Homo sapiens: one gene and its partner. The protein of the gene in region 2 purifies or fractionates together with the protein of the main gene of each other region. This does not show direct contact. Each region holds a gene or a part of one and is shown on either strand. Other genes may lie near its edges.

Region 1 (7,024 bases), on a different chromosome or scaffold from region 2:
CTGTCAAGACCTGAACACCCTGGGCCCCCACACCCCAGGGCAAGGGGCTGGTGCAGAGGAAGCCCGGGCCACTGCTGCCCAGCAGGCCCCCCACTGAATGGAGGCAGCAGAGCTGACAGGGCACGTGGGGAAGCCTGCTGCATTTACAGAAGCAGAGGCCTCCCAAATACATAAGGGAACCGAGTTGCCAGAGACCCCTCACCCAGGTGGCAGACAGGCAGCCTGGCCAGGCCTGTGAGCACTTCTAGACTGGCCCCGTCCTCGACCCCTGCTCTGGGCGCGCCCCCCCCGCCTCCCGTGTTGATGGTGGGGTATCAGCTTTGGGCAAGTCAGGACACCTCCAGGCCTCAGATCCTCCCCTACGACACTCGGGCCGCCCGCCAGACCCCAGGGACCCCGTGGCCCTGTATGGCAGGTCTTGGTGGAGCAGCCCCATCACCCCCATCCCGCAGCGGGTCCTCGGGGACAGGAAGCTGCCCCAAGGTCTCACCCAGGCAGGTGCCGGCTCCCACTTCCAACAATCAAAAAGAATTTATTCCGGACACGTGGCATGCGGTGCTGGGCAGTGCCCACCGTGGGGGACGGGGTGGAGGGTGGGTTGGGGGCAGGTAGGAGGCCGAGCCCCGAGCCCCCGCCCGGCTACTCGCGGTAGTGCACCCGCTGGTGCTGGATGAGCTGGGAGCTCTGGCCGAAGGCCTTGCCGCAGGCGCCACACGCGAAGGGCTTCTCGCCCGTGTGGGTCCGCAGGTGCCGGAAGAAGTGCGAGCGGCCGCGGAAGGCTTTGCCGCAGTCGGAGCACTCGTAGGGCTTCTCGCCAGTGTGGATGCGCTGGTGCTCGATGAGCACGGAGCTCCAGATGAAGGCCTTGCCGCACTGGCTGCAGGCGTAGGGCTTCTCACCCGTGTGCAGCCGCTGGTGGCGCACCAGGTTGGAGCTCTGGCTGAAGGCCTGGCCGCACTCGCCGCACTTGTAGGGCTTCTCGCCGTTGTGGATGCGCAGGTGCTGCGTGAAGTGCGAGCTGTGGCTGAAGGCGCGGCCGCACTGGCCGCACTCGTAGGGCTTCTCGCCCGTGTGGATGCGGTGGTGCTGGATGAAGCCCGACCAGCCGCGGAAGCGCTTGCCGCACTCGTGGCAGGCGTAGGGCTTCTCGCCCGTGTGGATGCGCTGGTGCTTCAGGAGCAGCGAGTTATACTTGAAACTCTTGCCGCAGGCCTCGCACCTGTGCGGCTTGGCCCCCCGCGCGCTGCCCTGCCGGCTCCGACCGAAGTTGACTCCCAGCTCGGCAGCCCGCTCGGGCGCACCCTCGGGCCCGGCCGCTGCTTGCTGCACGAGCGTCACGCGCCAGGCGCCCCGCGGCTGGGCGCAAGGGACGGCCCCAGGCGGCTGGCCCGCCGGCCGCTCCGCGCTGGATTCAGGCCCGAAGCCGGCGCTGCACCGGGCCCTGCGGGGAAGGCTCCTCAGGAGGCTGCGCAGCGCCCCGCCCGCCCCCTCGTCAGGGGCCTGAGAGCCAGGAGAGCGTGGAGCCTGCTCCGGCTTGGGCTCGGAGTCTGAAATGAGAAACGGCAGAGGCGGATAGTACCCGCATGCCCCCACCGTGGCACGGAGGGACGGGGACGGGGAGTGAGAGCAGAGCTGGACGGGGGGGCTTAGAGGGGACAAGGAGGGGCCAGGCACCCAGTGGATGGGAGACAAGCGGACAGGGGCTCGGAGTGCCGTGCCCAGGAGAGCTGACATAGACACAGGGGTGGGGGGCGTTGCAGGGTGACCCAGAGCTGCTGGGACCATCCACAGTCACCACGGCGGCCGTGCCGGTGCACGGAGCCACAGTGGCAAGACAGACCATGGGGTCACCCTTAGCCAGGAGGAAGCACTAAGTGTTGGTGAGGACCCGGAGCCTGGGGGACGCCAGAGCTCCAGAGGGCGCCTCAAAGCCCTTGCCGAGGATGTGGTCCATATGGGCACAGCTCCTCATGGGGCTGCCCCAGGCCTCGGTGGCAAGTGTGCTGCCGCCCAGCTCCCATGCCCACCCCAGGAGCTTCCCACGCAAATCTCTGGCCCAGGGTCTCTTTCCAGGGACCTGACCTCAGACACCTGCTCCCCACCCCAGGGCCGCCCAGATGTGGGCGAGGGCTCAGCACTGTTAAATCCAGCCATATCACTAACATCGCCCAGAGGGAACCCTGGGAGCTTCTCAAGGGGGAGGTGCAGGGGACCTGGACACAGCTCCAACCAGGCTGAGGGGAGGCCATCTAGGGGATGCAGGAGGAGGAGGGGACACAGGATAACTCGTGGATCTGGGGGGACAGTGGTGCCCTGAGCCAGAAGCCCCAGCCCAAGGCAGGTGGAGGGGAGGGAGGAGTTCCTGATTCACTGTGTCCAGCTGGGGCCGGCAGGAGTCCACGTGGGGCCACTGGCGCAGGTGGCTGTGGGCTGCAGTCACCGCCTCGGGAAGCATCAGTAACTGGACTGGCATTAGAGTGGGGGAGGGGCCACGGGGCAGAGGTGAGCTGATGCCAGGGAAGAAAAGGGGCCCCAGGAAGGGGGTGGTGCCAGCATTGGGGGTGCCACAGAGGTGGGCATTGTGAGGAGCCTGGCACGCGCAGAGCTCTGGTCCCCCAGTAACCCGATTCTGCTCACTCACCGGGCCAGAAGGTGTCTCTGCCGATCTCCACTTCCTCTACGTCTTGGAGATCCAGGTCGGACGGCTGGGAGAGCACCTTAGGGCTGGAGCCAGGGGAGCCTGGGGGTCAGGGAGGCTGGGGCTCACCTCCACCCTCTGGACCACTGCCTCCGCTCCTCTCTGACCGCCACGTGCTCCCGGGCTGTGGCCCTGACACAGGACACCTCCTGGCCCTCCCAATCCCAACAGCAGGCCCGCTGCTTGGGCTTCTCTAGCCACGAATGCCCTTTACCTTCCTTCCCAGCTCGGTTCAAGAGCCTCCTCCTCCAGGGGCCAGCATTGGGAGCTCATTCCCCTTCAGCCCAGTAAGCAGAGCCAAAACCTGGGGGAGCTTTGAAGCGGCCCTCCTGCCGTTGAAGGCGGCTTTGTCACCTTGGTGGGCTGTGGCCCACCCTCCTCCATGCCCCAGCATCCTGCAGTGCTGCTCTGGACCGGCCTCTCAAAGTGCTGGCCCTGCAGGCTCCCACACCCGTACCTCACAAAGCCTTCCTGCCTTGGCCCCAGACCTTTCTGTCCCTCCGGGGCTCTCTGCTGTCCTTGACGAGCGCCCAGAAACAGCAGAGGCAGCTGCTTCCAGCAGGCCCAGCGCACTGGCCCCTGGCTTCCTCAGGCAGAGCCTGAGGAATGGGCTGGGCCCATCTATGAGCCCCTCACCCCTGGGCACACCAGGCTTGGGCACCCAGGACCAAGACCCCCCTCCCACCCAAGACTTGGTGGGGGCAGGGTGGGGGGATGGCCTTAATGCTCAAGGAGCACAGACTGAAAAGGGAGGGGCGTGGGCTCCACTGCCCGAGGCCAGTGGTCAGCTCTCCTCACGCCAGCAGGGGCACCAGGCCCCTTTGGGGGTCTCACCTGTCTCCTCAGTGCTGTGCCACCTTGGTGCCTCACCTGCCCCCTCAGTGCTGTGCCACCCTGGTGCCTCACCTGCCCTCTGCCCACAGCAGAGAGGGTGGCTGGGGGCTGTACTCAAGGACGGGTGTGTCTCTTAGCCCCGTGAGGCCGAATCTGGGTGTCCCCAGCAATGACAATGCAGAGATGGGCACAGAAAGACGCAGGGCTGGGGTGGGCAGAGGCTCCTGTCCACACCCTGTTCATAACACAGTGCCTGGCTGTGACACCCCGTTCATAACAGTGCCTGGCTGTGAGCTTTTCATGGGGCTTTCCAGCCTCAGGCAGGCCTGCCCCAGCTGCGGTGGGGTGACCAGCTTGGCCCACCATGGAGGGGGGACCTCCCCAGTCCAGCCAGCCACTCACTCACCCGACACGCCCTCCCGCCCTCAGGTCGGCCCCTGGGAGACCTTCCGAACCCAGGCTGAGGAGTGAGGGGAGGCCCGATATGAAGGGCTGGGAAGTTCAGCAGGTGGGGGCGGCTGTGCGACGTCCCTTCCTCGAGAGCCGAGGGTCCAGAACTGCTTGGCTGCCCCAAAGCAGGATGTGGGGGTCCCAAACCATCTTTGGGTCTTTCGGATACCCTCCCCATTGTGGAGACAGGCCTGGGGGCACCATGTCACCATCCCCTGGCAGCCAGGGGAGCTGGCTTGTTCCACAGATGGCCAAATACAGGGCAGGCTCCAGCGCCATGCTCCTACAGAGGGGGCGGTGAGGACATCACCTGAGACAGCCTTGCCACCTTTGCCCTGCGCTGGGACACCACTGGAGAGGACCTGGCAGCCCTTTGAGAAAGAAAGTGACCCCGATTCCAGCTTTGTTCCTGGGGCCATGCCCTGGCACTGACAGGCAGGATGTTCCCCGGGCTGTCACTTTAAGAGGGCCAGTGACATTACCAAGATAGGAAGCACGCCAAAGCCGCTGCCAGCTGTAGGGGTGCCCGGAGACACCCTCAGAGTCAAGCAACGCCAGGTGGTGTGCACCGTCTCTACCCTGCTGCGGAACAAGCCGACTCAGGATGGCCCCCAGCTCCCTGGGAACTGCCCTGTGCAGGCAGCAAAGCACTTCCTAGGACCTTCTCTAGGGGAGGATGGGGGTGGCCTAGGGTCAGGTGTGGGCTGCATGGGTCACTGTCATTCCACTGCCTAACCCTGGATCCTGACACCTGCCCACATTCGGGCCATTTCTGCAGAGCTCAGTCACCTGCCACCTGCTGGCTGTGCCCAGGCTGTGCCAGGTCTCCACAGGGTGCACACCCAGACCCTGCTCCCCACCCTGCTGGCTCTATGCAGAAGTACCCCTGCCTCAGTTTCACCACCCCTCACCTGGCCAGTGCCCTCCCACTGTGCTGTGACACAGGGACAGTGTGGCCCGAACTGGAGAAACACCAGGGCTGCCCACCTGCTGGGGCTGGTCTTCCAAGTGGAGGTGAGGTGGCTGTACACGTCTGGGGACAGGCGGCAGGTGGGTGCTTTCCTGGCTGGAAGGGCCTTTGTGTATTAAATGGCACAGCAAGTGCTGTGTGCCCGGGCCTGGACCAGGGTGAGTTAGGGGAGCAAGCTAGGCGCTGGGGGGTGGTCTGTGGGAACCTAGAGTCCAGATCTCAGGTGCCAAGGCCAGGCGCTCCATGTGGAAAGATGCTGTGCCTGTCGCGGGGTGGCCCTGCCCTGCCCATGGGGTCCTCCCTAACAGCCTGGGCACTCAGTAACCCCCACAGGGCTGCAAGCCCCCAAGGGTCCCAGGCCTCCCCTCCCTCACTTCTTCCTGCCCAGACTGCCCCTCCACTCGCAGGACCCCTGGGTAAACCTTCCAGAACCGGCCCAGGCAGTGCTGGCTCTGGTGGGCGTGGCCTTGGGGCACAACACAATCCCTGAGAAGCTGTGTGGGGACCCTCAGTCCCCCAAGCCCAGCCCAGCTCCTGATCTGCATCTCCGTGGGGACCACAGAGGTCCTGGGAGATGAGGAACTGTGGCCTGTTCCCACCGCCTGGTCTCCCCGCTCTGCAAGGCTTGGGCTAGGCCATGGCCCCAAGTCCTTTGCTGTGGGACCCCAGCTTCATGGCTGCAGGGACCACCGCAGAGAACCTTACCCGGCCGCTCCTCATGCCCCTCACGACCCTCCCCACTGATAAACGGCTCCTACTTGGGACCTCCTCTGCTCCCTGATACGTCACGGCCTGGTGCCCAGCAACGCACCCACCAGAGGCTCCTGAGGTGACCACATGTGCCTGGGGTGGGCCCCAGGAACCTCGGTCTGGCCCACTGCAAACTTCTTTCTGGGAGTTGGGAGGCTGCGGCTCCAAGTCCTGTCTTGATCCCTAATTGGCAGGATGGCCCTGGGCAAGTTCCAGAAACAGCGAGGTCTCCCCTGCTTAGGAATCTGTGGCCCCTGGGCATTCCCAAGGAGCAGAGGAAGCTGGAAACGCCCAGAAACAGCCCCTGCCTTCACCCAGTGCCTGGAAGTTGGGACAGTAGCTGCCCATTGCTGCGGCCTGGCCCCGTTCTCTCTACACCAGGCCTATCAGCATGAAGAGGGGATGAAGGCCGCCCCCTTATCTGGCTCTGGCTACCTGACAGCCTTCCCAGGCCCCGCTGTGCCTCAGCCACAATCTCCTCCTGCCACAGTCTCTTGCTGGGGGAAAGCAGCCACACTTGCTGTTCTCAGGGCCCAGCTCATCTGTCCTCCCTGGATGTTGTTTCTAGCACAGCAAGGAGACGGCAGAAGCTGCTGGTGCAGCCCCCACTCCCTCCCACGGGGCAAAACCCCTGGGGGTTTCAGGGCACTCGGACATGGCTCCAGTGCCCAGGAGGCTTCCAGGCCTGTGGGGCTGGGGACTCATGCCTGGCTTTCTGGGCCTGGCTGCCCACAGCTGGTGGAGACAGGGCTGGGGGTAGCGCAACCCTGCAGGCTCAGGGGGCCTGGCCCCAGGCCCCTCCATGCTCCCCAGCCCACCCTCCACCTGGGCGTCAGTTTCTTATCCTGCAGAAACTGGCCTGCAGCCACCTCAGTGTGTGTCCTGTGCTGTGCCAAGATGATCTGCTGGGCTGTGCCCTCCCTCAGAAACTGTCCCCCTAGAGAAGTCACACCTCATCAGGCCTGGGGGGGTGCCAGGGCATGCCCTGAGTCTGCTGACCTCCTGGCCTTGTCTCTGGGCTTCTGTGTCCCCACTGGTAACGGGACAGGAGAACTCCTCTCAGCCATTGTACAGATGACATGAGAGGGCAAGGGTGGGCCCTGAGATTCTGACTAAGGGGTGAGGAGCACGGCCCTCAGGGGCATGGGCTGGAGGCCCAGCCACAGTGTGTGCTGCAGGGGCTTGGGATCCTTCCAGGTAGCCCCTGGCCAGGTCCACCAGGACAGGCAGCCCAGGCAGCCCACGGGCGCCCCTTCCCAGCCTCCTCGCAGTCCCTGGGGAGTTGCTCGGGACACCGCAGCGGAGACGGCAGGGCTGCAGGG
Region 2 (5,767 bases):
AATGTGAAAATTGGCAGTGCCTCAAAAAGTTAAACATAGAATTACCATATGATCAGGCAGCACTACTCCTGGACATACGCCCAGAAGAATTGAAAGCAGGAGCTGCAAACAGATATTTGCACATCTATGTTCAGAGCAGCATTATTCACAATAGCCAAAAGGCAGAAGCAGGCCAGGCACAGTGGCTCACACCTGTAATCCCAGGACTTTGGGAGGCCGAGGCAGGCGGATCACTCCAGATCAGGAGTTTGAGACCAGCCTGGCCAACATGGCAAAACCCCATCTCTACTAAAAATACAAAAGAAAAAAAAATTAGCCAGGTGTGGTGGTGGCACATGCCTGTAATCCTGGCTACTCGGAGGCCGAGGCAGGATAATCACTTAAACCCAGGAGTCAGAGGTTGCAGTGAGCCAAGATCGTGCCACTTGCACTCCAGCCTGGGTGACAAGAGCGAAACTCTGTCTCAAAAAAACAAAAAACAAAAACCTTTTAGATCCGCCATCTGTGGTGGAGCCGCCACCAAAATGTAGATTTTCCTGAAAACCCTTACAGGGAAGACCACCACCCTCGAGGCTGAACCCTCAGATATGGTAGAAAATGTAAAGGCCAAGATCCAGGGTAAAGAAAGAATTCCTCCTGATCAGCAAAGACAAGCACTGGAAGATGGGCGTACTCTGTCTGACTACAACATTCAAAAGGAGTCTCCTCTTCATCTTGTATTGAGAATTCGTGGTGGTGCTAAGGAAAGGAAGAAGTCTTTTTTTTATTTTTTTTGAGATGGAGTCTCGCTCTGTAGCTCAGGCTGGAGTGCAGTGGTGCAATCTCGGCTCACTGCAACCTCTGCCTCCCGGGTCCCAGTTCAAGCAATTCTCCTGCCTCAGCCTCCCGAGTAGCTGGGATTACAGGCACGTGCCACCACGCCCAGCTAATTTTTGTATTTTTAGTAGAGACAGGATTTCACCATGTTGGCCAGGCTGGTCTTGAACTCCTGACCTCGTGATCCACCTGCCTCGGCCTCCCAAAGTGCTGGGATTACAGGCCTGAGCCACTGAGCCCGGCCAGAAGAAGAAGTCTTACCTGCAAGACGAATAAGCACAAGAGAAAGAAGGTGAAGCTGGCTGTCCTGAAATATTATAAGGTGGATGAGAATGGCAAAATTAGTCACCTTCGTCGAGGTTGCCCTTCTGATGAATGTGGTGCTGCAGTGTTTATGGCAAGCCACTTTGACAGACATTATTGTGGCAAATGTTGTCTGACTTACTGCTTCAACAAACCAGAAGACAAATAACTGTATGAATTAACAAAAGACGGCCAGGCGCAGTGGCTTACACCTGTAATCCCAGCACTTTGGGAGGCCGAGACGGGCGGATCACAAGGTCAGGAGATCGAGACCATCCTGGCTAACATGGTGAAACCCCGTCTCTACTAAAAATACAAAAAAATTAGCTGGGCATGGTGGCGGGCGCCTATAGTCCCAGCTACTCGGGAGGCTGAGGCAGGAGAATGGAGTGAACCCGGGAGGCGGAGCTTGCAGTGAGCCGAGATCGTGCCACTGCACTCCAGCCAGGGCAACAGAGTGAGACTCCATCTCAAAAAAGAAAGAAAACCCACAAAAGACGTGAACTAACAAAAACAAACAAACAAACAAAAAAACAAAACAAAAGCTGGAAGCAACCCAAGTGTCCATCGATGGATGAAGGAATAAACACAACGTGGTTCATCCACACAAGGGAATGTGATACAGCCATGGAAAGGAAAACAGTTCTGACTCAGGCTACAGCAGGGATGAACCTTGGGGATATTATGCTCAGTGAAATAAGCAGATACAAAAGGACAAACACTGTGTGATTCCACTCCTAGGAGGTCCCTAGAGTCATCAGATCCATAGAGGCAGAAAGCAAGATGGAGGGTGCCAGGGGCTGGGGAGAGGGATAGGGAGTGAGTGTTTCATGGGGACAGAGTTTCAGTTTGGAAAGAGGAGAAAGTTCTGGAGATGGACGGCAGTGGTGGCTACATAACAACATGAATGTGCTTATTGCCACAGAATTGTGCTCTGAAAAATGGTTAAAATAGGCTGGGCATGGTGGCTCACACCTGTAATCCCGGCACTTTGGGAGGCTGAGGCGGGTGGATCACTTGAGGTCAGGAATTTGAGACCAGCCTGGCCAACATGGTGAAACCCCATCTCTACTAAAAATACAAAAAATTAGCCGGGCATGGTGGTGCACGCCTGTAATCCCAGCTACTCGGGAGGCTGAGGCAGGAGAATTGCTTGAACCCAGGAGGTGGAGGTTGCAGTGAGCCAAGATTGAGCCACTGTACTCCAGCCTGAGCAACTGAGTGAGACTCTGAAACAAAGAAACAAACAAAAGCAATGGTTAAAATGGAACAAGATGGTGCATACCTGTAGCTTCAGCTACTGGGGAGTCCAAGGTGGGAGGATTACTTGAAGCCAGGAGTCTGACACTAGCTTGGGCAACATAGCAAGACCCCGTCTCAAAAAAAAAAAAAAAAAGGCCGGGCACGGTGGTTCACGCCTGTAATCCCAGCACTTTGGGAGGCCAAGGCGGGCAGATCACAAGGTCAGGGGATCGAGACCATCCTGGCTAACACGGTGAAACTCCATCTCTACTAAAAAAAAAAAAATACAAAAAATTAGCTGGGCGTGGTGGCAGGCGCCTGTAGTCCCAGCTACTTGGGAGGCTGAAGCAGGAGAATGGCGTGAACCCAGGAGGCGGAGCTTGTAGTGAGCCGAGATCGCGCCACTGCACTCCAGCCTGGGCGACAGAGCAAGATTCCGTCTCAAAAAAGAAAAAAGTAAGTTATAATGGTAAGTTGTATGTTATATGTATTTTACCACAAAAAGGCCCGTTGTACTGGAAACAAAGAACAAATAAAAATGTAATAACCATTCCAAGCTCATGGGTGGTCCAAGAAGAAACATGAGCTGGACCTTGGCCCATGAGCAATGGCTTTCCAACTTCTGTTGCAGGTGATGCCATTGATGGAATAAACCATGATTTTTCTTTCTTCTTTTTGAGATGGAGTCTTGCTATGGTGCCCAAGCTAGTCATCCAGGATGGAGTGCAGGGGCACGATCTCAGTGCACTGCAACCTCCACATCCCGGGTTCAAGTGATTCTCCCACCTCAGCCTCCCAAGTAGCTGGGATTACAGGCACACGCCACCACGCCCAGTTAATTTTTGTATGTCTAATGGAGACAGGGTTTCATCATGTTGGCCAGGTTGGTCTCAAGCTCCTGACCTCAAGTGATCCGCCCGCCTTGGCCTCCCAAAGTGCTGGGATTACAGGCGTGAGCCACCGGCCATAAACCATGATTTTATTTACCAGTTCTATTGCTCATGGGCATTTGGGTATGAATGTGGTATGTCATTCTCACCCAGAGACATAATTATTATTACTATTTTAGAGAAGTGGTCTTGCTCTGTTGCCCAGACTGGAGTGCAGTGCTGTGATCATAAGTCACTGTAGCTTCGAACTCCCGGGCTCAAGCAATTCTCTCACGTCAGCCTCCTTAGTAGCTGGGACTACAAGTGCTTGTCCGCACCATGCCTAGCAAGAGGCATTAATTTTGTCATGTTTGCATCAGCCACCCTTGCATGCAAAACTCTGCTTGTCTACCTGTTCCTCAGACCACAGCCCCTGGCATTATCCCTGGGGCACCACCTCCTGACCAGTCTCTGGACATGAAGACGGAGGCCCTGTTGGAAGTGGGAAGGCTCCCTTCCTCCTCCAGCCCTTACTGTCTGCTCAGGGGCTTCCTCTTGGCCCCGGATGTGGGACCGGAGGGTTGGGGGCCCAGGGACTTATTAGCCAAGCCAGGAAGCCCCACCCCAAGAGGCCTCAAAGAAAGAGCTGCGGTGCAGGAATTCGTGTGCCGGATTTGGTTAGCTGAGCCCACCGAGAGGGTAAGTGACAGCTGCTCCTGCGCTTGCCATGGCACCAGCGGGGAGGCTGGGGTCAAGGCTGAGCCTCCATCCCTGTCCCCCACATGGGGGGACAGGGGTCCAGGTCCAGGGGCAGATCCTACTCCCTCCATGGGCCGGATCTTCCCCACAGGGCAGGGCTGATCCAGCTGTGGGTCTCTTGGTTCCCTCTTTCAGCGCCTGCAGGATGAAAGCTCTCTGTCTCCTCCTCCTCCCTGTCCTGGGGCTGTTGGTGTCTAGCAAGACCCTGTGCTCCATGGAAGAAGCCATCAATGAGAGGATCCAGGAGGTCGCCGGCTCCCTAAGTGAGGACCCCCCACTTGGGCAAGCTCCCCAAGGGTCTCAGAGACCTCACTGATCCCTGGCACAGACCTGACTCCAACCCAGCCCCAGCGCTCACCAAATCTCATCCTCAAATCCAACCAGATCATAAATTCAACCCCAACTCCACTCCCAACCCCTCCGACTGTCCCCACCTTATCCACGGCTCCAAACCCAATCCCCGCTCTCACTCCAAACCTTCCCTTACTCCAAAACACCCAACTCAAGACAGGGTCCTGGAGGCCAGTGAGCTCCTATGCCCACAGGGACCTAGCTCCAAACCAACAGGGCTAGGGGAGGATGGGGGAGGGACCGTTTGGTCTCACAGCTCCCCCTGTCTCCTTTCCTCCTGCCCCCCAGTATTTAGGGCAATAAGCAGCATTGGCCTGGAGTGCCAGAGCGTCACCTCCAGGGGGGACCTGGCTACTTGCCCCCGAGGTGAGTGCAGGAGACTGTTGTCCAGGCGCCCATTTCTGTTCCAAGTCCCCTGGGAATGCCCCCTCCCCGCCACGTTCCCCGTGTCCAGCCTCTACTCCCCTAGGATCTTGGTCCTGACTCCCAGCCTTCTCCGCCCACCATCTGGACACTGGTGTCCACCCTCACTCCCTGCCTCCAGTGCCCATTCAGTGGTTGGAGCCTCCAGCCGTCCCCGTCCCCACCCCCGCCCCCCCAACCCCCCTCCGCGCTCCCCACCCCCCTCCCGCTCCCACCCTCAGCCTCCCAGCTCAGAGTCCACGCTCCTGTGTTCCGGGCTGCAGGCTTCGCCGTCACCGGCTGCACTTGTGGCTCCGCCTGTGGCTCGTGGGATGTGCGCGCCGAGACCACATGTCACTGCCAGTGCGCGGGCATGGACTGGACCGGAGCGCGCTGCTGTCGTGTGCAGCCCTGAGGTCGCGCGCAGCGCGTGCACAGCGCGGGCGGAGGCGGCTCCAGGTCCGGAGGGGTTGCGGGGGAGCTGGAAATAAACCTGGAGATGATGATGATGATGATGATGATGATGATGGAGCGGATCTGAGCCCTGCGTGGTTTCTTTAGTAGGCCCGGAGGGACTGATCTAGCGTCTCCAAGAGAGTGGGGCGCGTAGCTGCTGGAGGGGGCGGGGACACCGCGACTTTCTACTGCCCCATCGCCCTTCCTCCTATGGGGTCTCCAACTGCTTCCTCCGAAAATAGGGCCTGAACTTCCTCTAGTGACGTCCCCACCCAAGGCTCATGGCTGCCTTCAAGAGGTGACGTCTCATCTTTGAGGCTACCTTGACGCTCACCCTGGGGTCTCCGACCTCCCCAGGAAGTGGCTGGGTCCTTTTCCCCCAGTCCTCATAATGAGGCTTCATCGAGGACCTGGGTCAGTCTGGGCAGTGGACGGGACCCTCCAGGGCCCCAAGACTCCAGGAGCCCCAGGTCAGGGTGGAACCCTGAATCATGTCTCAGCCCAGAGCTGGAACCTGTACCCCTCACTTCCTACCTGCAAGGAGGAATCCCCAAGGCACAGGCAAAGTT

What was found. The genes of interacting proteins can lie anywhere in the genome.
Region 1: the proteins of RETN (region 2) and GLI4 purify together in Homo sapiens (affinity purification with mass spectrometry; 2 studies listed by BioGRID and IntAct, with this or other methods). This does not show direct contact.

Annotation. Positions count from the first base shown.
Region 1 is NC_000008.11:143,270,420-143,277,443, reverse strand, and holds the end of GLI4 (zinc finger protein GLI4), read right to left. Parts: intron 2,741-7,024; coding exon 2,642-2,740; intron 1,548-2,641; coding exon 640-1,547; 3' UTR 513-639; downstream 1-512.
Region 2 is NC_000019.10:7,665,193-7,670,959, forward strand, and holds RETN (resistin isoform a precursor), read left to right. Parts: upstream 1-3,856; 5' UTR 3,857-3,929; intron 3,930-4,080; exon of another isoform or gene 4,081-4,124; 5' UTR 4,125-4,134; coding exon 4,135-4,252; intron 4,253-4,628; coding exon 4,629-4,706; intron 4,707-4,984; coding exon of another isoform or gene 4,985-5,026; coding exon 5,027-5,157; 3' UTR 5,158-5,263; downstream 5,264-5,767. UniProt on the Homo sapiens protein: Hormone that seems to suppress insulin ability to stimulate glucose uptake into adipose cells. Potentially links obesity to diabetes. Promotes chemotaxis in myeloid cells.